5 separate regions of the Homo sapiens genome follow, and all the other regions are linked to region 1. Evidence: fine-mapped expression QTL. A gene starts in region 1. Each other region holds a variant in brackets. All regions are shown on one strand. Distances are between the middles of the regions.

Evidence for each region.
Region 2: its variant is fine-mapped to the expression of VIPR2 in whole blood (TOPMed, PIP 0.92).
Region 3: its variant is fine-mapped to the expression of VIPR2 in whole blood (TOPMed, PIP above 0.99). The same link has a PIP of 0.9 or more in pancreas.
Region 4: its variant is fine-mapped to the expression of VIPR2 in whole blood (INTERVAL, PIP 0.97).
Region 5: its variant is fine-mapped to the expression of VIPR2 in whole blood (TOPMed, PIP above 0.99).

Annotation. Positions count from the first base shown.
Region 1 is chr7:159,142,302-159,147,406 of GRCh38, forward strand. It overlaps VIPR2 (vasoactive intestinal peptide receptor 2), which reads right to left and starts at 2,566. Exons shown (of 13, transcript NM_003382.5): 1 at 2,420-2,566; 2 at 145-244. The coding sequence starts at 2,470. RefSeq lists an enhancer at 4,364-5,105.
Region 2 is chr7:159,173,388-159,178,492 of GRCh38, forward strand. No RefSeq gene overlaps it. Among named protein-coding and RNA genes, the nearest start is that of VIPR2, 31 kb to the left of the region's middle. The variant T/C (reference allele first, on the strand shown) is at 3,121.
Region 3 is chr7:159,113,127-159,118,231 of GRCh38, forward strand. The region is part of intron 2 of VIPR2 (vasoactive intestinal peptide receptor 2); the gene reads right to left. Among named protein-coding and RNA genes, the nearest start is that of VIPR2, 29 kb to the right of the region's middle. RefSeq lists an enhancer at 1-297. The variant C/T (reference allele first, on the strand shown) is at 3,146.
Region 4 is chr7:159,282,985-159,288,089 of GRCh38, forward strand. No RefSeq gene overlaps it. Among named protein-coding and RNA genes, the nearest start is that of VIPR2, 140 kb to the left of the region's middle. The variant T/C (reference allele first, on the strand shown) is at 2,320.
Region 5 is chr7:159,193,106-159,198,210 of GRCh38, forward strand. No RefSeq gene overlaps it. Among named protein-coding and RNA genes, the nearest start is that of VIPR2, 51 kb to the left of the region's middle. RefSeq lists an enhancer at 4,060-4,169 and a silencer at 4,280-4,349. The variant T/C (reference allele first, on the strand shown) is at 2,908.

The sequences.
Region 1 (5,105 bases):
TCATTAACAAACAATGGGAAGTGGCCTTTCTTTTTCTTTTTTTTTTTTTAAGATGCAGGTGGTGACCCTGAACCACAGCTGAGTGAGGCGCATTCCCGGGTGAGAATGTCACGGGAGTTCTTACTCACCAAGCCTCTGCCTTACCTTTGTGTTTTTCTGTTTGAGACCTCAGAAGCTCTGCACATTTTGTTTCTTCCTCCTGTATTTCCAGATGAAATCGGCATTCTGGGTGAATGCTGTTCACCTGTTCACGGTTAAAAGAAATATTAATAACTAAAAATTCCACAAGAAGAAGAAAAGCAAGCAAAAATTCTACAAAAACAACCCCAAACCTCACAGCTTTAAACTGCTTCCAAACCAAAATGCATTTAAAACCAATCACCTTGATTTTTCTGGCATTTTTTAAAAACTTCACTATTTACTTTGTAAAGGTATTATAAAACAAACACAAAATCTAATAGAATTTTTTTTCTGAGCAGGAAAATGAACTTACTAACAGAATACATCGGTACTAATTTGGAGGCAACAGAGCTCTTTACTCCATTCATCTCTCCATACCCGGCTCCTCCGTTTCACACCCTTTGGTTTGGTTTAAGCGGATGCCTGTGGACTGTGCCGCTTCCTCCGAGGACGGCCTCCACCCGGGAAAGAGCCGTGATAGAAGGGCTTTATTTTTAAAGGTGTTGGTACATGTTCAAAGCTTAACCCTCTAACTACAGATAAAACTGCAATCGTTTTGACTAGAATTTGGGGTGGAAGAGATATTCAAAGAAATCAGCAAGATGAGGAGGGAGGCAGAGGTGGGGGAATCACACCATTGTGGCCCCACAGAGAAGAGGGGGCGATTTCCAGTCAGGATCCATCAGGGGAGCGAAAGGTGCCACAAAGATAGTAATTAACAGTCTACTAATGTGAGAAGAAGGCAGAACTACACAATGCTTCCTCTCAGAAGGCACCGTTTCTACCTTGTTCTTCACGCCCTCCGCGAAGTCAGCACAGGCCTGCCAAGCGGCCCTTGGGGGCTTAAGGAGGGCTCCCCCCACCCATCCTTTTGGTCTTGATCTTCCCCCTCCCCCACCACCGACCAAAATTCTACTTGTACTAAAGTAGTAACTAAAGAGAATCATACTGTTGGGCGTACTATGGCCATCTATGTTTAGTTATCTTACTATTGAAATGGTCAATGAGAGTTCCAACCAGGAACACAATATCCTAACAGAATTAAGGGGAAAACAATGCTGGAACTTCTGCCACCTTCAGCCCCATTTAAAAGAGCCCCGAGCTTGCTTCTTGCTCGTGACTGAACCAGCACCAGGCACTGACTTTGGGCTCCAAGTCCTCTGTTTTCATGCAGGACAAGTAAGTGGCTTAAATTTCAGAATTAAGGAAATTATATTGATGTAAAAAGAAAAACTTTGTTAAAGTGTAAAAGACATTAATAATACCTGACGTTCCTGGAATATGCACAGCAATGACTTCTTTTAGGACATTTTAGCAATGAAAGCAGCATTAACCGTGATAAAACCCGTTACTTTCCAAGGACCCGCTCCGCAAAGCGCCCACCCTCGAGGGAGGAAAGCCGAGCTGCGCCTCCGCGCAAGGCCAGGGAGTGTGGCTCGAGCCCCGCTGCAGACCGGGCGTCGCCGGTTAATCAATGACACTGTCGGGTCAGCAGCGCAGCCTCCCAGCTGCGGAGGGGCCGCGGATCGATCCAGACCTGCCTCGGCTGCGACGCGCACGAAAACCGCGCGCACCGCAAACCCGCTTCAGTCTCCAAGAGGAAAGCAAGAAACAAGGCTCGGGTTTTTTTCTTTCTTTTTTCTTTCCTTTTTTTTTAAGGTTCACAGAGGGAATAATTCAGAACTCCATGTGCGAAGGCACTTAATCAACAAACTTATGAGCAGTTAGTTCCTCCAGTGCCCTTGGGAAAAAGCAACTATTTCCAAAAGGAAACTTTATTTAACCGACGCCACGTCCCCCCGACACTAAAACTAACCAGTAAGTACAGGGAGGGACCGAGAGGCATCTGCGGCCAACGCCAACCCCGATCTCCCCGTGAAACGCGCAGCCCGCGCAGGCGCCCGCAGCTCCCAGCTCCCGGGACGGCCCCGAACGAGCTCATCGTTGACGCGTCCAGGAAGAAACGATCCCGTTTCCAGCAAACCCCGGACGGTGGGGCGCGGGGAAGGGCGCAGGCAGCCTCCCAACCCGAGTCCCGCAACCCGGCGGGACCGGAGCTCAGCGCTTCACGCTCTCCGGGAGGAAGCTCCGGACCCCGGGCGACCCCGCTCCCTCTCCCGGACCCCGCCCGCGCTCCAGCACCCGGGAGGAAGGCGAAGACCGGCGGGAGGAGCGCTCTTCTCGGAAGGGGAGAACCGGGTCCGAGGCGCCGTGGGGCGGGGGTCGCGGGCGCACTCACGGGGGCGAGCAGCCAGCAGGTCAGCAGCGCGGGAGGCAGCAGCGTCCGCATCCCGAGCTCAGCGTGCCGGGGGCCGCCCAGCGCCCGCCGCCTCCGTCCTAGGTCCCCGCGGTTCCGCCGCCTCCAGCATGGGCCGGGAGCGAGTGCGCGGAGACCTCGGGCCCCGCAGCTGTAGCCGAGCGCCCGAGCGCGGGGGCCGCCCCCTCCGTCCCGGCAGCTGGAGCGCGCTCAATGCACGCCCGTCCCCCACGCGCCCCGCCGCTCCGCCCCCCGCCCCTGTCCCCGCCCCGCGCTGCCCCAATCCTCGTCTCCCTCCTCCCCCGAGAACCCCCGCTCCGCGCCCCTCCTCACCGCCCCCCACTTCCCCTTCCGCTGCGCCCCGCGCCCTCTCCTCGCCCCTGGGCTCTCTGTCCCCGCCGCGCGCGCTCCCTCTGGTCTCCTCGACCCCCCCAGCCTCTCTCTCCGTTCTCCTCCCCTCTTCCCTGGCCCACGCCCCCCTCCCGGCCGCGCCTCCCCGATCTGTGGGCGGAGGGGCTGGGAAGCGGGGTGCTCAGTGCGCGCCCGGCTCCGAGTAGAGAGAACTGGGGGAGAGCGGCCGGCGCGGGGCCGGGAGAGGAGGACCGGGCCAGGTGTGCGCTCGGAAGGGGCGGATGCCTTTGCGGCCGCCTGTACCTGCCTTTCTAAACAACTGCGGAAGCCCAAGAAAGCGGCCAGAGACCCGTCCGGGGTGGGCGCGCCGTCTTTGTAGCCAGTGGGGCTAGGTTGGGGCATCTGAAAATGGAGAAAATCAGAGTGCTTTTTGGTGGGGATCCCCGCAGCCTCAAAGAGGACATCAGGTCGAACAGAAAGCTGGAGAAAAACGCAGACGGGGGTATAGGTGGGTCCCAGCCTCAGCTGGGTGGCGGGTTTTGTGTCCTGCGTTTGCAAAACGGGGGTCATTCTCTCCCCGCAAACGCGGCGGCGGGTGGGGAACGCTGGGCGGGGACTCACGCGGTGCCACTGGGGCCGCCCCGCCGCGCCCCACGCGGGACTGCGCGGCCTCCCAAGGCGCCCGCGTGACCAACCCAGGAGAGCTCGGCGTTCCCCAGCAAGTGGAAAGCACTGGAATGAGAGATACAAGTTAAGTTCGTGTTGTTTTAATTTTTTATTTGGAAATAATTTCAAACTTACACAAAAATTAGAAGAATAAGAATATTACAAATAACTCCTTTTTATCCTTTTTGTGGATTCGGTCATTAACATTTACCTCATTGGGCTTATCATTTGCTTCTCTCTGATCCCCCACCCCCCGTATTCACAGATATCGATTTTTCTATCATCTGATGTTTATCATCCACATTATCTATCATCTACCTATCCATCATCTACGTATCATCTATCGATCTGTCATGTACCTATCATCTATCATCTTCCTATCGATCATCTATCTGTAATCTGTCATCTATTATCTGTCATCTATCATCTACCTGTCCATCATCTACCTTTCATCTATCCATCTGTCAGGTATCTATCATCATGCGCCTATCATCTATCATCCACCTTTCCTCTATCACCTACCTGTCATCTATTATCTATGATCTATCCATCTATTATGTACCTATCATCTATCATTTGCCTATCTTTCATCTGTAATTTACCTATCTATAACCTGTCATCTACCTATTTATCATCTATCATCTGCTGTCATTTATGATCTATCCATCTATCATGTACCTATCATCTCTGTATCATGTATCAATCAGCTATCATCTACCTATCATCTCTCTGCGATCTATTACCTATCTATTACCTACCATCTACCTATTTATCATCTATCATCTACCTCTCTGTCATTTATCTATGATCTGTCATGTACCTATCATCTATTATCTTCCTATCGATCGTCTATCTGTAATCTATCATCTATTATCTGTCATCTATCATCTGCCTATCCATCATCTGTGATCCGGCATATCTGTGATCTACCTGGCTGTCATCTATCAATCACCTATCATCTGCCTATCTGTCATCTGGCTGGCATCTATCAATCACCTATCATCTGCCTATCTGTCATCTGCCTGTCATCTATCAATCTATCATCTGCCTATCTGTCATCTGCCTGTCATCTATCAGTCTATCATCTGCCTATCTGTCATCTGCCTGTCATCTATCATCTGCCTATTTATCATCTATCTGTGATCTATCATATCTGTGATCTGCCTGTCATCTATCAGTCATCTATCATCTGCCTATTTGTCATCTATCTGTGATCTATCATATCTGTGATCTGCCTGTCATCTATCAGTCATCTATCATCTGCCTATCTGTCATCTGCCTGTCATCTATCATCTGCCTATTTGTCATCTATCTGTGATCTATCATATCTGTGATCTGCCTGTCATCTATCAGTCATCTATCATCTGCCTATCTGTCATCTGCCTGTCATCTATCATCTGCCTATTTGTCATCTATCTGTGATCTATCATATCTGTGATCTGCCTGTCATCCATCATCTGCCTGTCATCTATCGATCATCTATCATCTGCCTATCTGTCATCTGCCTGTCATCTATCCTCTACCTGTTATCTATCTGGCTTCATCCATGTGTATCTAGTGGGAGACGAGGAGAGGGAGACCTGGGCCTTAGGCGGGCTGCTTGGCTTGTGAAGAAAGCTCGTGGCGCTGGGTGCCTTCGACAAACGCATCT
Region 2 (5,105 bases), 31 kb after region 1:
CTTAAAACAATGATGAAGTTGGCTGCATTGACTGACTCTTCCTTTCACAAAACCTTTCTCTATCATGATGCTGTTTGACAACATTTTATCCCCAGTAGAACTTCTTTCAAAATTGGAATCAACCTCCTAAACTCTGCTGCTGCTTTATCAACTAGGTTTATTTAATATTCTAAATCTTCTGTTGTCATTTCAACAATATTCACAGCATTTTCACCAGGAGTAGATTCCATCTTAAGTCATTTTCTTTACTTACTCATAAGAAGCATCTTTTTATCCATGTAAGTTTGATGATGAGATTGCAGCAGTTCAGTCCCATCTTCAGGCTCCACTTCTAACTCTGGTTCTCTTGCTCTTTCCACCACATCTCTGGTTCCTTCCTCCACCAAAGTCTTGAACCCCTCATGGTCATCCATGAGCTGGAATCAACTTCTTCCAAACTCCTGTGAATGTTGATATTTTGACCCCCTCTCGTGAATCCCAAATGTTCTTAATGACATCTAGAGTGGTGAATTTTTTTCTGAAAGGTTTTCAATTTACTTTGCCCAGATCTATCTGAGGAATTACTATCTATGGCAGTTACGGATGTATGAAATATATTTCTTAAATGAGACTCAAAAGTTTAGATGACTCCATGGGCTGAAGAATGGTTGTTGTTTCAGCCGGCATGAGAACAACATTCATTCTCCATCAGAGCTCTTGGGTGACCAGGTGCATTGTCGATGAGCAGTAATATTTTGAAAGGAATATTTTTTGGGCAGTAGGTCTCAACAGTGGGCTTAAAATATTCAGTAAACCATGCTGTAAACAGATGTGTTGTCATCCAGGCTTTGTTGTTCCGTTTATAGAGCACAGGTAGAGTAGATTTAGTATAATTCTTAAAGGCCCTAGTATTTTTGGAATAGTAAATGAGCATTAACTTCAACTTCAAGTCACCAGTGGCATTAGCCCCTCACAAGAGACTCAGCCTGTCCTTCGAAGCTTTGAAGCCAGGCATTGGCTTCTCCTCTCTAGCTATGAAGGTCTTAGGTGGCATCTTCTTCCAAAAGCTGGCTGCTTCACCTACACTGAAAATCTGTTGTCTAGTGTAGCCTCCTTCATCACTGATCTTAGCTAGATCTTCTAGATAACTTACTGCAGCTTCACCTTGCACTTTATGTTATGGAGATGGCTTCTTTCCTTATACCTCATGAACCAACCCCTGTGAGCTTCCAACTTTTCTTCTGCAGCTTCCTCTCCTCTCTTGGATTTCACAGAATTGAAGAGAGTTCAGCCTGTCACCTCTGGATTAGGCTGTTTTGCTTTCTCATCATTTATTTGTTCACTGGGGCAGCACTTTTACTTTCCTTCATGAACTTTTCCTTTGCATTCTCAGCTTGGCTAACCATTTTTCACAACAGGCCTCGATTTCGGTCTTTCATGCCTTTCAACATGGGTTCCTCACTAAGCTTAACCATTTCTAGCTTTTGATTTAAGGTGAGAGAGGTGTGGCTTTTTCTTTCATGTGAGCACTTAGAGGCACTTGCCAAATTTAAATATTCTTGAGTCTCAGGAAATAGGGAGGCCCAAGGAGTGGGAGAGAGATGGGGGGAAGGTTGGTTGGTGGGGCCATTGGAACTTACAACATGTATTAAGTTGGCCACCTTATATGGGTCCCCAAACCATTACAATAGTAACATTAAAGATCAACAGTCACAGATTACCATAACATTTGTAATAATGAAAAAGTTTGGAATATTATGGTAATTATCAAAATGTGACACAGAAACATGAAGTGAGCACATGCTGTTGGAAAAATGGCACCTATAGCCTCACTCAATTCAGGGTTGCTACAAACCTTCAGTTTGTGAGAAAAGCAGCACCTGTGAAACACAATAAAGGGAAGTGCAGTAAAACGAGGCCTGTGGGTTCTCCTTCTGGGCTGCCGAATTTCCTGTGGGTTCTCCTGGGCTGCCGGATTTCCTGTGGGTTCTCCTGGGCTGCCGAATTTCCTGTGGGTTCTCCTTCTGGGCTGCCGGATTTCCTGTGGGTTCTCCTTCTGGGCTGCCAAATCTCCTGTGGGTTCTTCTGGGCTGCCGAATTTCCTGTGGGTTCTCCTGGGCTGCTGAATTTCCTGTGGGTTCTCCTTCTGGGCTGCCGGATTTCCTATGGGTTCTCCTGGGCTGCCAGATTTCCTGTGGGTTCTCCTGGGCTGCCGAATTTCCTGTGGGTTCTCCTTCTGGGCTGCCGGATTTCCTGTGGGTTCTCCTGGGCTGCTGAATTTCCTGTGGGTTCTCCTTCTGGGCTGCCGGATTTCCTATGGGTTCTCCTGGGCTGCCAGATTTCCTGTGGGTTCTCCTGGGCTGCCGAATTTCCTGTGGGTTCTCCTTCTGGGCTGCCGGATTTCCTGTGGGTTCTCCTGGGCTGCTGAATTTCCTGTGGGTTCTCCTTCTGGGCTGCCGAATTTCCTGTGGGTTCTCCTTCTGACACAGCAGGATTCCTGGTGTCCTTCATCTCCCTGCACGTCATCCATTTAGCTTCCAAATCTCACCTGCATCCAGCTCCAACTCCTCCACGCCCTGCTGAATGTCTCCAATTTCTTAGCAGAACATCTCAGCTCTGCTCATGCCTCCACCTGCGTGTCTGCCGCCTGCATCAACGCACTGAGGGCTCTGCCAGACCCAGGACTTGCCACGCTTCAGAATCAGTAAGTTAATACTTCTGAAGGGACTTTAGCTTTTCTGGCATATAGCAAGTTGAATAAATGTGTGTTTTCGTTAGTCTCTGTTTAATTAACCAAAAAATTATTTCAATAATACTGAGGTTTTTTGGGTCTCGGTACATTTTTTTGATACTTAAATGTCTCACGTGGCCCACTGGAGAGGAGACATATTTTCAGCATATATGACTATGAAACACTGTTTATGTTTCCTTGGGGGTAAGAAGTAGCAGGGATTTGAAGGGAAATGAGAATATAACTGGGTGAAGATAACTGTCTGTTAGGAGAAAAAACTTGGGACTGTAACTCACCCCCCAACTGGGAATGAGCCGAGAGATCAAAGAATGACAAGAATGGCTCGGATGAGTCCAGCCTGACGAGTAGGTGAGTTTACTGGGACTCACACACAGGGCACTCCTGGATGG[T/C]TGCAGGACAGCTCTAGAGGTCACCCTACCTCCCAATTCCAAGCTGCTTTTAAGCTAATTTGCTGGGTCTCTGCCTGCAGTGTGTGTGCAATGGGGCTGTTTTCCTTGCTTTATGTCCCCACACACAGCCCAGGATGTTGGGGTTCTCAGGGACACCTGCTTCTCAGCTGGGTGCCATGGACTTGGCCGGCTGCTGGACCTTCAGCTTTCAGTGACATACACACTTAAGTAACCTAGTGGGGCACATGTCACACCACACTGCTTTGTGTCATCATGTGTCAGCCCATTTCAGCTAGTGACAGCAGCCTTCACCTCTAGATCATTTTATGAAGTTTGTAAAATACAAATCTATACTGCAGGAAAAATGGGCCCAAAAGGCATATTTAATATTTTAAGTAACTTATTTCCTGCCAATTTGGGGTAAAAATTTCAGTTGCTTTTCCTTAAGACTGGCTAACCCTAAACACTTCCTAAGGCACTCATTATTGGATTGCTAAGCAAATGGGTGTTCACCTGAAGAGAAGGAAAATTAATGAGGCTATAAAGTTTAATCATAATAAAGATCATGAAGTCTTGTTTCGTAGCTAAAGAAATTGCCATATCAAAATATTCTACATCTCACTTTGATGAAATTGAGTTCAAAATTTAGATTTGATAATGAAAAATACGAAGCTAAAACTTATTTTTGTGTTGCCCTTGAGCTTACTCTGAAAACATGTAAGAGCAGAGAAGTCAGGAAATTTCTGTTGAGTTGAAAAAAACAACACTTTTGCTGATGTGAAAACTGTATGGCTGAACCAGAAAATAAAGATATTAACATAAATCCAATAAGGCAAGTTGTCTTACTATTTTGTTTTGTTAACCCAGGACCTCTTGTTCTCTAATTGTTTAAAGGAAATAACTCATAAAGTCTGACTCAAGCTAGCATTGGTGAGATCAGAGAGCTCAGTAAAAATTCCACACTTCCATGCTGCAGGCAATGAAGATGTCGCTGGAAGGGTGAGACCACCCAAGGCATCTCTTTGGCAATGAACTCATCCTTAAAGCAGACATGCTCTGACCACCAGTGAATTTTCCCTTCAGTAAAAATAGAGTCATATTTAGCTGGAAAGGTAGAAGAAAAGTAGGAGTCTATCTATATTTAAACCATATGGTCTGAAGTGAAATGAGAACAAATCTCCTGACAGATTGATGTTAGGAAAATTGAATGAAACACAAGTGCTTTTCAGCAGATCTAATTCAGAAGGAGGTTACTTGGAGTTGTAACACAGATTCTGACTCTCCTTTCAGTGCCAGGTTCACCGACATCTTCTGACATTTCTCCTCCTAAGTTGCATTCTGTGCGTAGGGGTTGTCCAAGTTGCTCTCCTCTAAAAAGGGGTTCCAAGAGGAACACATTGAGCAATAATTTATTTTTGAAATAGGAGTTTCATAAAGGTTTCCTTTGCTTTTGAGTTTTTAAAAGCATAGCTGGGCTGGGCGTGGTGGCTCACGCCTGTAATTCCAGCACTTTGGGAGGCCAAGGCAGGCAGATCACCTGAGTTCGGGAGTTTGAGACCAGCCTGGCCAACATGGAGAAACCCTGTCTCTATTAAAAAAAAAAAATAGAAAATTAGCCTGGTGTGGTGGCACATGCCTGTAATCCCAGCTACTCAGGAGGCTGAGGCAGGAGAATTGCTTAAACCTGGGAGGCGGAGGTTGCAGTGAGCCAAGATTGAGCCATTGCACTCCAGCCTGGGCAACAAGAGCAAAACTCCATCTGAAAAAAAAAAAAGAAAAGCATAGCTGATTCAGACTTAAACTGCTATTTGCTACCTGTGCTAACCTACTCCTACTCCAACTTATTGGCAGTGGAAACCATTGAAGAGATCAACAGATATCAAACTTGAAAGAGTACCTTTTTTATAGTTATTTTCACATTTTTAGAATTTTCATAAGGGTTAAGAGTTTACAGGACTTATAGGTGGCTGGCTCATTGAGTCCTC
Region 3 (5,105 bases), 29 kb before region 1:
GCGAAACTAAAGGCAGGTAGCCCAGCGCCTAGGAACCAGACCCGACACCAGGCCTGGACCTGCCTGACCTAAGCCTGGTAGTTAAAATTTGACCCCTGACCTAGCAACTGATGTTATCTATAGATTGCAGACATTGTATAGAAAGACACTGTGAAACTTCCCGGTCTGTTCTGTTTCACTCTGACCACCCGTGCATGCAGCCCCTGTCACATACCCCCTGGCTTGCTCAATCAATCATGACCCTTTCATGTGAAACCCTTAGCGTTGTGAGCCCTTAAAAGGGACAAAAATTGTGCACCTGACAAGCTCGGATTTTAAGACGCTAGTCTGCCAATGCTTCCAGCTGATTAAAGCCACTCCCTTCACCATCTCGGTGTCTGAGGGGTTTTGTCTGCAGCTCGTCCTGCTACAAGAGAAAAAATGGAACCCTGAGACCACCTCAGTGCAGTGTCTTGAGAGTGTTCTGGCCTGAGGTTTGATGCCTAATTATTGAGAGGTAGGTGAAAAACCCAGCAACAGAAAAACGAGGAAAAGCATAAAGTTATGAAGAAAGGAAATGCTGGATATTATGTGGCTCAACTGTGATGGCAATGATGTACACCAGCAATGTGAAGTGAGTCTATCAGGAGGCTGGCAGGATGATAAATTATACTTGGGTGGTGGGAATGGCACAGGAGAGATAGATCTTTATTCTTGTTAGAAATCTAATGGACACTGGGATGTAAATTGGGAGGAAGAAAGAAAAGAAACAGGAGCATAAGTATGCTGTTTAGAAATAAAATAAATACCAGAGAAGAGATGAAAGAGATGCTGCCATAGGGCTGAGAACTGGGGATGACGAGGGGCCGGAGACTATTATCTTCATACAGCCTTGTAGTATCATTTGCCTTTTACAATTTTATAAATGCACTCTGTTGAAAACTAGCATTTAAAGTGTATCATTATATTAAGATACCCATTTTTAAATGTTTACATTTTTAAGGAACATTGTGCAGGCCAAAGCAAAATAGTGCATGAATAGGTCATCAGTTCAGTGTTGGACATAAGTGATTCAAATTTGGCACAGTGAACCCTTTGGGAGAGGCAGCGAATTTGGGAGAGGCAGCAAGTCCTTCTGTAGGAGTGTGCGCCGAGGCACAGGACGGCATGGGAGGAGAAGGGGAGGCAGGCAGGGCCACCCCCGAGAGAAGCACAGCCACTTGGAGACGCCTGTCTGTTTGGAAAGCAGTGGGCAGCTGAGATTTCATGAAACAAAGGATTTGCAGATGGAGTGAGAAACAAACAAAAGTGCTCGGATAAGGCAGTCAGGGAAATGGGACTTGTTAAGCTCTGGTGGCAACCTAGGTTTTCCAGATGGTGATCATAAAATCAAAGGTCGCTCTGAAAAGTGGAAAATGTATCAATAGACTCTGAAAAGTTACTTGGTAAAATTCAGTGGCCATTTCTAATTTTTTAAAACCCTAAATAAAATAGTAAAATAATGAGACTCCCTTAACATCACAGAGAATATTTGTTAAAAATAGCAAGCATTAAGCCAGGCACTGTGGTAAGTACCTGCAGTCCCAGCCACCCAGGAGGCTGAGGTAGGAGGATTGCTTGAGCCCAGGAGCTTGAGTCAAGCCCGGGTGACTGAGTGAGGCCCTGTCTCAAAGAAAAAAAAGAGGAAAGAAAGAATAGAAAGAGAGAGAGGGAGAGAGAAAGGAAGGAAGAAGGGAGGGAGGGAGGGAGCGGGGAGGGAAGAAAAAGAGAAAGAGCAAGTATTAGACATGTTTAAACAGAATTGTACAACTGAGGAGCCAGGTTGGGTACCTGCAATTCATTATTATTCAACAATGTGTCATAAGTTGCAGCTAAAACAGCAGATGAAAGAAGAACTAAGAGGTATAAATTGGTAAAAAGTAGAGAAAAAACCCTAGAACTGTACTTTCTATATGGCAACCACTAGCCTCACATGGCCATTTAAATGAAAGCTAATTAAAAGGAGATGCAGTTAAAGGTTTGGTTCCTCAGTTGCAGCCGCCGCATTTGAATGCTCCGCAGTGGAACTTGGCTGGTAGCCATCACACCAGCATTTCCACTACCATGGGAAATTCTACTCGACAGCACTGTCTAGGGTCAGAGTTAGACAAATGCAACATAAACCCAGCAAACCTGTCTCACAAATCAAGAAGCAAAAAGAGAGAGAAAAGAGCAATGAAACCCTTTGGCTCGCACACCGAGGCAGAAGCTCAGAGGAGCCGCTTCTCTGGGTCATTGTTCTTCGGCTAAAATGTCCCATGTAAATAATCCAAAATACCTTTGAATCAATATAAATGATAAAGTTGTTTCACTTATCACCCCAATCTTCCTCTTTCAAAACTTGGCAGAGGGGTAGAGAAGGAGCCTCCTCTGATCTCAGCAGCCTCTCACCCAAAGTCATGGTCAGGGCTTGGCAGGCAAGCCTGGCTGAAACAGGACTTCAATCTGTCTGCTTTGGACGTCTCACCTTAATTAGAACACAGCAAGGTGTGTCACCACTAGTGCTTAGAATGTGTCACCAAAGCCCCTGAGCTCAGGCTTGCTGGCTGGGTCGTCCCTTGGCCTTTTCAGATCACGCCCCTGACGTGCTGCCTGCAGCCTCCAAGGTCAGGGTGCTGGGAATGGAGGAACTCAGGCTGGCAAAGCTGGTGTCCGAGCTGCCCCACGCCCTCTAGCTGCCCTTCTCACCTCCGATTCCGTTGCTGCTTCTAGTCTTTCCTAAGCACTCAAGTCAGCTTCCTGGGGCCACGTGCTTCCTTTCATATACCAGCTTAGGCTGCGTTTAGCTAAGTAGTCAGGCAGCAGGTGTGAGGCATCGATTTGTTTGTGAACAGCAAGGTCTCCCAGGGCTGCTGTGAGCTCCACCCATTGGACATGGGGTCTTGTCCCCACCCTGCTATGTGGCCCCGTGACCTGTGCTGACCCCTCGGACTGACAGGCTCTTCCTTCTGGAAGGTGGTCATCACGGAAGGGCTGGAGCAGTTGGTGGGAGCCCTGGTCGGAAAGGCTGCAGGGAGAAGGCTTAGGCACCTGCTGAATGTAGGAAAGGAACAGCTTGGGTGACGTGGGCAGAACCTTTTGGGCCAACCTCAGAGCCTTGGGAGGAGCCAACTACTAATTTTGAAGC[C/T]AAGTTTCAGGAGATTTGTGCCATAGCCACACATAACCAGGAGCAAATCTTCCTGGGAAGCAAACAGCTGGCAGAGCAGAGTCACATGGGCCCTCCAGAGGGCACTGCAGTGGGTTGGCACCGGCATGGTCAGTGCCCGCATGGTCAGTGCATTTGGGAAAGCAAGTGGGCAGAGTGGGCAGTGACCGGTGGTCAGTCACAGGGGCTGGTCAGGGGGCTGGAAGCTTCCAGGCAATGAGTGACTTTTCAATGTAGACTGGCAGTGGTGGCTTCCTAATTTTTGCTTGAAAATCAGCTTAGTCTCCTGAAAAAGACACTGTAGACTAAGTCGTTCAGAAAAACGGACCCTGTGATGGTGCAGCCTTCCGACATTTCTGAGGCTTCACAGCATTTTCAACGGAATACACAGGGTTTGGGAAAGGCTGCTGCTTGAACAAGTTCTTACCGGTATGCTGGGAATTCCTCCAGGTGGAATTCTGAGGAACACAGCAGTAACTCAATTATGTGACACCTTCCAGCCAAAGGGGAGTGCGCACAGAGTGGGGAGGAACCTACAGGAACCTGCAATCCTACCGTATAAAAGACGCTGCCTTCTGTCCAGAGACTCCCTAGGAAGTCCTGGCTCTTACAGATGACGTTATAGGTGTTACTTTGAGCTCTGGATTTGGATTTATTTTCTCATTATTTCAATGTCAATGACATAAACATCAATTAAATTTCAAGAGACTCTTACGACATGCTCCCCCTTATCTAGGAAATGACTTTTACATATACTCCATTTTGTCCTCCCAGCAACTCCCTGAAGAAGGCGAGAGCCCCTGTCCTCACACTGGGGAGGAGACCAGGTTCACAGAGGGGAGGAAACACACTCTGACCACAGGACGGAGTGCGGGAGCCAGCCGAGCAGTCGGGCTTCTGGGTCACTGCCCTTTCCCTAGAAGGTCCCTTGCCATCTCAGACTGCATGGGACTTGCTTTATCACCAGTGTATACCACACACGAGGCTTCCTGTGACTTAATTTCTCAATGATTTTGTAATTATAAAAGCACTGGTCATGGAGCCAATGGGTAGGTATGTGGGTCCAGGATCCTCTTTAAACCTCCGGCGTGAATGAGGATGAATCCCTTTGTATGGCCTGTGAACAGACAGGATAACAGTGAGCACATGAAACATAGTGCCGCACCACACAAAGGCAATGCAGGACGTCATCTCAGAGGTGGGGCTGCACCTGCTGACCTGAGTCATGGACACAGATGGGTGCAACTCCAGTTGTCACCTGCACCATGCTTGCCACGCAGCTCATGCTCTCTTTGGACAATGGGCAGCTCTGGGAGGTGGTGCCCTAGATCTTCCCATGGTTCCCCCACACCCTCCTTCCATCTTCAGAGTCACCTGCCCCTACCCCACATGCAACTCCACAGAGAGTGGCAGCTGAGGGTGGGTGGCCCAGGAGGCCCGAGTCATGGGAAGCCACCCTGCTGCTGTCATCAGTGACCAAGTGTCAGCAGGACTTGGAGGAGGGGCATGAGGGCTGAAGCTGCTTCATCCAGACAGGGCTGGGGAACAGCTCTAGGAACCAGCGAGTGGGAAAAGGAAAGCTGAGAAGCAAAGCCTCCTGAGACTGGCCATCGGCTCGGATGACAGCTTGCCTCCAACGCATTTAGAAGCAAATATTTCCAATCGCATCCTCCACTCAAGAAAGCTTGACTTATGTCTCAAGTGACAACAACAAAGCTTCCTCCAGAATCTGGGCAGAGCAGGAAGTCCCAGCTGGTTCTCACGGGGAGCTCAGAGAGGCCGGGGGCGTCCCAGTCATCGAATACTCCCCTTGCACAGCAAATAACGGGCTGAAGGATGAGCCACTCTCTTCCTGCTGGGGGGCTGCTGAAGCCCCTGTGACCACTCCTTCCGAAGGTGGGTGTTTAAATACCTTCCCAGCCGCATGTCTGAGTGGTTGAGT
Region 4 (5,105 bases), 140 kb after region 1:
CTAATGACTAAAGTTATTCAAACAGCCATTACTAAAAAGGAACAAAGGAAACGTGGTTTTAAAAGACAAATCTTTTGTAGTCTTCAAGTAATACTTAGTTCTTATACATTGTACTATGGTTTGAATGTGTTCCCTCCAAAATTCAGGTATTGATGCTTGACGGCCAAAGTAAAGATATTAAGAGGTGGGGTCTTTAAGAGGTGATTAGGTCATGAGGGCTCCACCTTTCCTGAATGAAATTAGGCCGCCTTATAAAAGGGCTTCATGGAGGGAATCTGTTTTGCTTGCCCTTCTGTTTTCTGCAATGTGAAGATACAGTGTTCCTCCCCTCTAGAGGGGATACAGCAACAAGGTGCCATCTTGGAAACAGAGAGCAGCCCTCACCAGACAACTGAATCTGTTGGTGCCTTGATGTTGGACTTCCCAGCCTCCTAAACTGTGAAAAAATACATTTCTGCTCTTTACAAATTTGCCAGTCTGTGATATTCTGTGATAGCAGCACAAAATTGACTAAGACAATATGTAAATATATAATATAGTTCAATATTAGTCTAGGTTCTAAGGTTTAGAATAGTACTTAACAAATTTAACAAGAAAGGTACAAGATCTATATAAGGAAGATGAAAAAACTATTAAGGCAAAATAGGATCTGAATAAATGGAGACACCACTTATCTGCTTGGGGAAGTATGTATATATGTTCATTCTCTTGAGAGAACATATACATTTTAATGCAAAAATACATTGTTTCTTTTTAAAAAAATTAAGCTCATCTGGAAGAATAACTAAATTTAAAATGCCAATTTTTCCCCCTTTTTACAGGGTCTCTTTCTGTTGTTCAGGCTGGAGAGCAGTTGTGTGAACATGGCTCACTATAGCCTCAACCCCCTGTGCTCAAGTGATCCTCCAGCCTCAGACTTCTGAGTAGCTGGGACCACTAGCATGTGTCACCATGTTCAGCTAATTTTAAAATATTTTGTAGAGATGAGGTCTCACCATGTTGCCCAGGTAGGTTTCCTGGGCTCAAGCTCTATCCTCCTCTATCCTCCTGCCTCAGCCTTCCAAAGATTATAGGCACCTGACCCCCAAAAAAATTTTTAATAAGGCAATTAAGACTCCATAAATATCAGAACATAGTATAAAGTTACAGTGATTCAAACAGCATGATATTTGTTCAAGAACAAACAGACTGGGAGATAGAATTAGGTCCCCAAACAGACCCATGTACCTATAGGTACTTAGAATCTGAGTAAGGTAGGGGCAGGGCTAAAAAGACCAACTAGAAACAGCAGCTATCAGAGGCTTCCATCATAAAGAACCGTAATTAGCATGTGAATCCTTCACCAGCAACCAAGGTATCCAGGTCTTCTCATCAGAACTGACTAGGCGGCTGACATGATCCACAGCAAGGAAGGAAAAGCAGTGTGGTGCAACGGCCCAACTGAGAGCTGCACAGGACAGGGGAGCCCCCACCTGCCAGCCAAGGGAGACAGTGAGTGAGCATGCTACCCAACTGGGGAAAACGTCCTTTTTCCATGGAATTGTGCAACCCATGAATCAGAAGATCCCACTTGTGAACCCACGCCACCAGGGCCTAGGGTCCCAACCCAGGAGCCACGCAGACTCTCAACAGCCTCTCAACTGGAATCTGCCTAAGTCTGCTGAGCTCCCAGGGGAAGAGGTGACCAGCACCACAGCTGTGGCTACCTACTGCCTAAGCCATTTGAGCTCCTGTGGGAGGGGCAGCAGCCAGCACTGGGACTCATAACTGCCTAACATGCTAAGCTCCCTAGGTGGGGGAAGAGTGGCATCCATCTCTATAGTTCCAGGCCATGCTTTTCCCATGCTGGAGCCAGAGATGCTGGATGGCTTGGTCCCCAAGAGATGTCCTCCACAGCCCAGCACACTGGCTGTTGCAGACTGTGGCCAGAGCACCTCTTCAGGCCTGACCCTGACACATCCCTCCTCACTGGGTGGGGCTTCCCTGCAGGAACTCCAATAACTCCAACCAGAGGCTCAGGGACAGAACCCAAATCTCCATGGGCCTGAGCCCCTAGGGGAGGGGTGGCCGCAGTCTCTGCGGACCAGCAGACTTAACCTTTCTTTCTGTAGTTCTGAGGAATCCGGGCAGCCCAGATGAGTGGATTTCCCCTCAGTGAAGCACACCCTCTCCACCAAGAGACAATCGAAGTGCTTCATTAAACAGGTTCTGTTCCCTGTACCACCCAACTGGGTGAGACCCTCCAACAGGGGTTGTCAGATACCTTATACAGAAGCAATCCTACTGGCATCAGATTGGTGCCCCTCGAGGTCAGAGATC[T/C]TAGAAGAAGGAGCAAGCACCCATCTTTGCTGTTCTCCAGTCTTCTTGAGTGACAGCTCAGGTGCAGGAGCAAACCAGATGAATAGGGCCTCAAGTGAATCCCTAGCAAACCACAGCAGCCCTACAGAAAGGGGACCAGACCATTGAAAGAAAAACAAACAGAAAGCAACAACAGCATCATCAACAACAAAATGTCCCCACAAAAGCCCATCCAAGGGTCAGCAGCCTCAAATATCGGAACTAGACAAACTCATGAAGATGAGAAAGAATCAACAAAAAAACACCTGAAAACCCAAAAGGCCAGAGTACCTCTTCTCCTCCAAATGATTGCAATGCCTCTCCAGCAAGGGCAAAGAACTGGACAGAGGATGAGATGGATGAATTGACAGAAGTAGGCTTCAGAAGATGGGTAATAAAAAACTCCACTGAGCTAAAGGAGCATGTTCTAACCCAATTCAAAGAAACTAAGAAACTTGATAAAAGGTTAGAGGAGCTTCTAACTAGAAGAACCAGTTTAGAGAGGAACAGAAATGAACTGATAGAGCTGAAAAACACAGCACGAGAACTTCGTGAAGCATACACAAATATCAATAGCCGAATCTACCAAGCAGAAGAAAGGATGTCAGAGTTTGAAGACCACCCTACTGAAATAAGACATGCAGACAAGATTAGAGAAAAAAGAATGAAAAGGAATGAACAAAGACCCCAATATGGGACTTCATAAAAAGACTGAACCTACAATTGATTGGAGTACCAGAAGGAGACAGGGAGAATGGAAATGAGCTGGAAAACACATTTCAGGATATTATCCGGAGAACTTTCCCAACCTAGCAAGACAGGCCAACATGCAAATTGAGGAAATACAGAGAACACCACTAAGATATTCCATGAGAAGATCAACCCCAAGACACATAATCTTCAGATTCTCCAAAGTTGAAATGAGAAAAAAATGTTAAAGGCAGCCAGAGAGAAAAGCCAGATCACCTGCAAAGGGAAGCCCATCAGACTAACAGCAGACCTCTCAGCAGAAAACTACAAGCCAGAAGAGACTGGGGGCAAATGTTCAACATTCTTAAAGAAAATAATTTTTAACCCAGAATTTCATATCCAGCCAAACTAAGTTTCATATGCAAAGGAGAAATAAAATCCTTTCCAGACAAGCAAATGCTGAGGGATTTTCTTACCACCAGGCCTGCCTTGCAAGAGCTCCTGAAAGAAGCACTAAATATGGAAAGGAAAAACTGGTACCAGCCACTGCAAAGACACACCAAAATATAAAGACCAATGACACTATGAAGAAACTGCATCAACTAGTGAGCAAAATAACCTGATAGCAACATGATGATAGGATCAAATTCACACATAACAATACTAACCTTAAATGTAAATGGGCTAAATGCCCCAATTAAAAGGCACAGACTAGCACATTGGATAAGGAGTCAAGACCCATTTGTGGGCTGTATTAAGGAGACCCATCTCATATGCAAAGACACACATAGGCTCAAAATAAAGGGATGGAGGAAAATGTACCAAGCAAATGGAAAGCAAAAAAAAAAAAAAAAAAAAAAAACAAGAAAGAAAAAAAGAAAAAGAAAAAGCAGGAGTTGCAGCCCTAGTCTCTAACAAAACAGACTTTAAACCAACAAAGATTGAAAAAGACAAAGAAACACATTACATAATGGTAAAGGGATCAATGCAACAAGAAGAGCTATTTTAAATATACATGCACCCAATACAGGAGCACCCAGATTCATAAAACAAGCTCTTTGAAACCTACGAACAGACTTAGACTCACACACAACAGTAGCGGGAGACTTTAACACCTCACTGTCAATATTAGACAGATCAATGAGACAGAAAATTAACAAGGATATTCAGGGCTTGAACTCAGCTCTGGATCAAGTGGACCTAATAGACATCTATAGAACTCTCCACCCCAAATCAACAGAATATACATTCTTCTCAGTGCCACATGGCACTTATTCTAAAAGCGACCACATAATTGGAAGTAAAACACTCCTCAGCAAATGCATAACAAACAGTCTCTCCAACCACAGTGCAATCAAACTAGAACTCAGGATTAAGAAACTTACTCAAAACCACACAATTTCATGGAAATTGAACAGCTTGGTCTTGAATGACTCCTGGGTAAATAAAGAAATTAAGGGAGAAATCAAGAAGTTATTTGAAACCAATGAGGACAAAGAGAAAACATACCAGATTCTCTGGGACACAGCTAAAGCAGTGTTAAGAGGGAAATTTATAGCACTAAATGGCTACATCAGAAAGCTAGAAAGATCTCAAATCAACACCCTAACATCACAATTAAAAGAGTTAGAGAGGCAAGAGCAAACTAATCCAAATGCTAACAGAAGACAAGAAATAACTAAGATCAGAGCAGAATTGAAGGAGATAGAAACACAAAAAACTCTCCAAAAAAATATATGAATCCAGGAGCTGTTTTTTTGAAAAAATTAACAAAATAGATAGACCACTAGCTACTATAAACACCTCTATGCAAATAAACTAGAACATCTAGAAAAAATGGATAAATTCCTGGATGCATACACCCTCCCAAGACTAAACCAGGAAAAAGTTGAATCCCTGAATAGACCAATAACAAGTTCTGAAATTGGGGCAGTAATTAATAGACTATCAACCAAAAAAAAAAAAAAAAAGCCCAGGACCAGATGGATTCACAGCTGAATTCTACCAGAGGTACAAAGAGGAGCTAGTACCATTTCTTCTGAAACTATTCCAAACAATTGAAAAGGAGGGACTCCTCC
Region 5 (5,105 bases), 51 kb after region 1:
ATTTTCTTATTTGTGTTAAACTTCAAAAAATGTGAAAACATTCGAAAGAAGACAGTGTCTCCTGGGATCTGGGCAGCAGGCTGGGTCTGAACTCTCGCTTACCTCTTGTGGATGTTAACACAGCCTGGAATTTCCTGGTTTGTTAGTCAAGGAATACTTTACCCAGGTGCAATCCATCTGCTTTCATTTTTTTAGTCAGTAAATTGGACTCCTTTCTTTTTATCTGCTTGAAATGACTAAAGCAATGTGTGTGTTGTTTTTAGAATGGAAGGCTTTGCATAACGGACACTAACATTATTTCTTTCCAATCATGTTGCAAGTTGCCTGCATGTTGTGTAAACCAAAGAGTGCCTGATACGGGTCTCAATCAGCTTAGAGGTTTATTTTGCCGAGGTTGAGGATGTACTCAGGAGAAAGAGACAGACTGCAGTAGGACCTGTGGCCCATACTTTTTCCAAAGAGGGTTTTGAGGGCCTCAATACCTAAAGGAGAAAAGCAGGCAGGAGGGGAAGGAGGAAAGGAAAAAAAGATTTTTTTCTGTAGAAAAAAATCAGACAAGAAGTTGCATTCTTGTGAGGCTTTGATTAGTGCTCAGTGAATCCACAAGCTGCAGGTGAAAGGAGGGGAGAGGAACAGCGGAGTATGTGGCTGTCTCTCACTCAGTGAATCTGCACTTTGCACGAGATGAAGTACACACAGAGTGGAGGAAGAAGTCGAACAGGCATTCATCTCAGGGTGGGTGGTGGGACAATTTATTGTCCTGCACTCACAAAGATAAGGTGTTAATTTACACTGTCAGGGTGAGAGAGGCCACCTGGGGAGGTCCCTGTTTAACAGAAGGAAAGGGAGTTGTTTGTGGCTCAGTTTCCAAGCTCAACTTTCCCTTTTGGCGTAGTGAGTTTGGGATCTGAGATTTTATTTTCCTTTTGCAGTTGCAATGTACTTATTATCAAAGTTAGGGCATCCATCTACTCCAGAGTAATTTTGCTTTTAGGATGAATCAAAATAATGCCTCATATCTGATATTTTGAAAAGCTCTTCACAGCAAGAAGGAATTTTGCTGATTTTGGAGCAAGAGCGGTGAGAGCAGGATGATCCCAAGTCCTACCCTGTTTTAGTCACTCCAAGAAAAGGTTTCTCACGGAAGAGGAATGAGTCTGTGTCAACTGTTCCCAAGACATCCTGTAGGAGCCCAGAAGGCCAGGAGCCCAGAAGGCCCTGGACATTTTGGGAGCACCCATTCTAAGGAAGTGGGCACTTTCACCAAGTAAACAGAAAGAGGTCGGGAGGAGCTCTCTACGATATGTTTTCCACTTACGCTGATACCTTAAATCACACAATTAAGGATCCAGATTTTTCATTCCATGTTAGGTAAAAAGCTTTAAAAGCATATGGCCTCAGTAAAGCCAGCACACCAATTCCAAACTGCTGCTCGGTGCAACTTGAGAATGCAGCAGAAATTGTGCATGTGTTGACACTGCTCCATTTCATTAGGAAGAATGAAAACAGGAAATACAGGTGAAAATCTTCCAAACTTTGAAGTAGTCAAAGATTTCTTAAATAAGCCCAACAAGAGTTATCAATAACAGAAAATCAAATTACCTTAAAGAAATTGGAAACACATTACAAAATAAAAACAGATATGTTCCGCACAAAATGCACAAAGGCTTAGTGTCTATAATTCAAAGAACTATTATAAATCAATAAGAAAAGGACTGATAATTCAATTACAAGTGTCCAAAAGGCAGCACACAGTTCAAAAAAATGGAACATATAACCAACAAATATATGCAGAGGCCGAATATCCTTAGTGATCAGGAAAATGCAAGTCCAAATCACAGAGATAACATTTTACTGTCATTTAAGTGGGAAAAAGTGGTGACATCTGATGGCACCAAGCAAAGGGGCAGATGCAGATTGCCTGGACCCCATGCACATTCCTGGTGGGAATAAAGCTGGAGCTGCTGCTGTGGACAGCAGCTTGTCCCTATGCTGGGAGCTGCGGCATTCATATTCCCTGTGAGCACCAAAGGCATCAGCAAAAATGTTTCATTCACAGGAAAGCAAAAATCTGGAAACAATTCAAATCACTTCTAACAGGAAAATGGATAAACTGTTGCACATTCCAACCATACGTTATTTTACAGTGCTCCAAGTGAAGAATATAGCGACATGCAATCAGATGCATAAATTTTAACAATCAGACCGGGTGCGGTGGCTCACACCTGTAATCCCAGCATTTTGGGAGGCTAAGGTGGGTGGATCACGAGGTCAGGAGATAGAGACCATTCTGGCTAACACAGTGAAACCCTGTCTCTACTAAAAATACAAAAAATTAGGCGGGTGTGGTGGCTGGTACCTGTAGTCCCAGCTACTCGGGAGGCTGAGGTAGGAGAATTGTATGAACCCGGGAGGCAGAGGTTACAGTGAGCTGAGATGGCGCCACTGCACTCCAGCCTGGGCGACAGAGCAAGACTCTGTCTCAAAAAAAAAAAAAAAGAAAAAGAAAAAGAAAAAATTTTTTAACAATTTAATTTTGCCTGGCAAGTGAAAATCCCAAAATTAAAAAAAAAAAAAACAACCAACTAAAACTGAAGCCACATGATTTTTAGGGACATACTTCCAAGGTAGACACATATGTGCAGGAAGCCCAGACACAGACATCAGCCATCTGGGGAGAGGGAGGGATGGGGGCATTCAGGCAGATGTAGGTTCGTTTCCAATGCCCTACTTTTCATTTGGGGTAACTTTAGTAGGTAGTTGTTGAATTGTTTAAATTAATTTTTAAAAGCAGGCTTTGCATGAACAATGATGAGAGTATGTAAAAAACTGAAGTTTCAATTAAAAGAAATAAACAGGAAATGACCATGTGTTGAAACCAGAAGCAGCTGAGCTGAGAAAATCTTA[T/C]CAGAAAGTGAGAAAATAGCGCGACAAACAGCCACAAGAAGAGGGCTCATCTGTGTGAGTACAAACGTGGCCTGCTCCATCGTTTTGCTGAACCAGCCTTGACAAGGGCACTTTACTCTGGTTAAATTCCAGAGAAGCAATTTTTCTAAAACAACTTTGTCTCCTCTTTGGGGATCAAAGGCAGAATGTGCCATTTTCTACCTCCTAGCGAGGGGATACATTTGAAATCCTCCAAGAGCTTAAGAGTTTGCATCTTGGCCACTTTCCCAGCATATGTGCTTTAAAGAGACCAGAAAATGGTGTTTTCAAAATACTTCCTGGAATCTTTTATAAGGTAATAAATCAGCAGGAAAGGTCACCCGGCCTGCTCCTTCTTACCACTTCTGTAATAAACATAAGTTTCCATTAATATTAAATATTTCTTATGACAATTTTAGTCTAAACATATTATCAATTATCTTAGAAATGAACTATGTCACTAATAAAAATCATCATCATATTAATTTTCTATTTGGCTTTCAAATTTATAAAACCTTTATCATCTCATTTGATAAAATCCTGTGATAGTTTCATTACAACACAAATTGCATGTTGTAATCATCTTGCTTAGTTTCTGTCACTTTTTAAAACCTGATTTGTCTGTCACCATGCTGGAATGTCAGTGCCTCTGTGGCATCACCTGTCTCTCTTGCCACCGCCTGGCTCAGGCCTGGCACGTGCTCAGTGAGTTTGCAAGACTGAAGGGCACCCCTGCCTCCACGTCAAATCCCAGGGGTCCCTCACGGCGCTGCATGTGGGAAGATGGAGGCTGAGCCCCAGTTTGCATGCCATGGTGCTGGCCCTCGCGTATGAAATACACCAGTGATTATAAAGGTTAGTGAAAAATCTAATTATGAAATTGTACATAAACTACGATTAACTCTTTTTGTATATAGAAGAGGATACAAGGAAATATATCTAAATTGCTATGTTCACTATGCTCAGTGATAAGATTAAAGGTACATATTTTTCCCCTTTGATTTTCAACATTTTCTCAAACGTGCTTCTATTACTTTTACAAATTATCATAATCAGAGACGTAATACCCTGAGTCACCTGTTGTGTTTACTAAGACAACAAAGTACTTTGGGGTTTCTTTGCTCCTTGCAGACAGGGTGGTGGAACTGAGGGAGACTGCAGCCAGCCCAGTCGTGCCCACCCGGGCTTGCCACAGAGTTCATGGGCCTTGGGGGCTTCGTGCATTCTGCTCCCTGCTTAGAAACAGCCTCCCCCAGGCCTTCCCCGCTCCTTAGCGTGGCTGACTTCCTCTGGTCCTTTAGGGCTCAGCTCACCCGACTCCTCCCAGGAAAAGCTCCCCAGTCAGAGGTTCCTCCCTCTGGTCCTTTAGGGCTCAGCTCACCAGACTCCTCCCAGGAAAAACTCCCCAGTTAGAGGCTCCTCCCACGTGCTTTTATTTAGCTCCCTCAGCAGCTACTATGCGTCTTCATGACCTGTTTACCTCGTTCCCCAGGGAAGTCACAGGCTCCCTGAAGACAGGAGCCGTGTTTTGGTCACGGCCTCCTCGCACTGGCCTGCAGGAGAAGCTCCAGGGATACGTGAACGGATAGATGAGTGAGAGGCTTTGGGTGCCCTGAGCTCGAGTTTGTGTTTTAAGGCAAGTCATATCACTTATCAGTCATATCACTGCAGAATGAGAATGCTAAATTTCTCTTGTTCTTACATCCTGTATTTGCACAGCACTTTCACGTTATCACGTGTGACAGAAGGAAGACAGCCTCAGCCTCCCGGCTCAGCCACTGGGTCTAGTCCATTGGGCACAAATACAAACCTGCAAGGTGTGTGTGGCTCGGAGAGGGGCCCCTCAATGTCAGCAACAAGGGGGGATTTCAGAAGGTTCCAGTCTCCTTCTTACCTCTCTTCTCTACTTCTTACCTTCCTTCCTTTATTTATTCCTCTTTTCCTTCCTTTTTCAAATATTTTGAGCTCCTGCTGTTTCTATGCCAGAGAAGGAGGCAGGCCCCAGCGAGACCGAGAGAGCTGAGGGCCCGCTGGCCTGGAGGCCTCCGGAAGGCAGCTCCTTCACCACTTTTGATCCCCCTAAAATGTCAACAGACTTTAACCACTGATTATTTGTCATTTAGACCCAAGTGCTAATGAATCTGTCCCTGGTGAAGTTCAGGATGGGCCCCCGGGAGGAC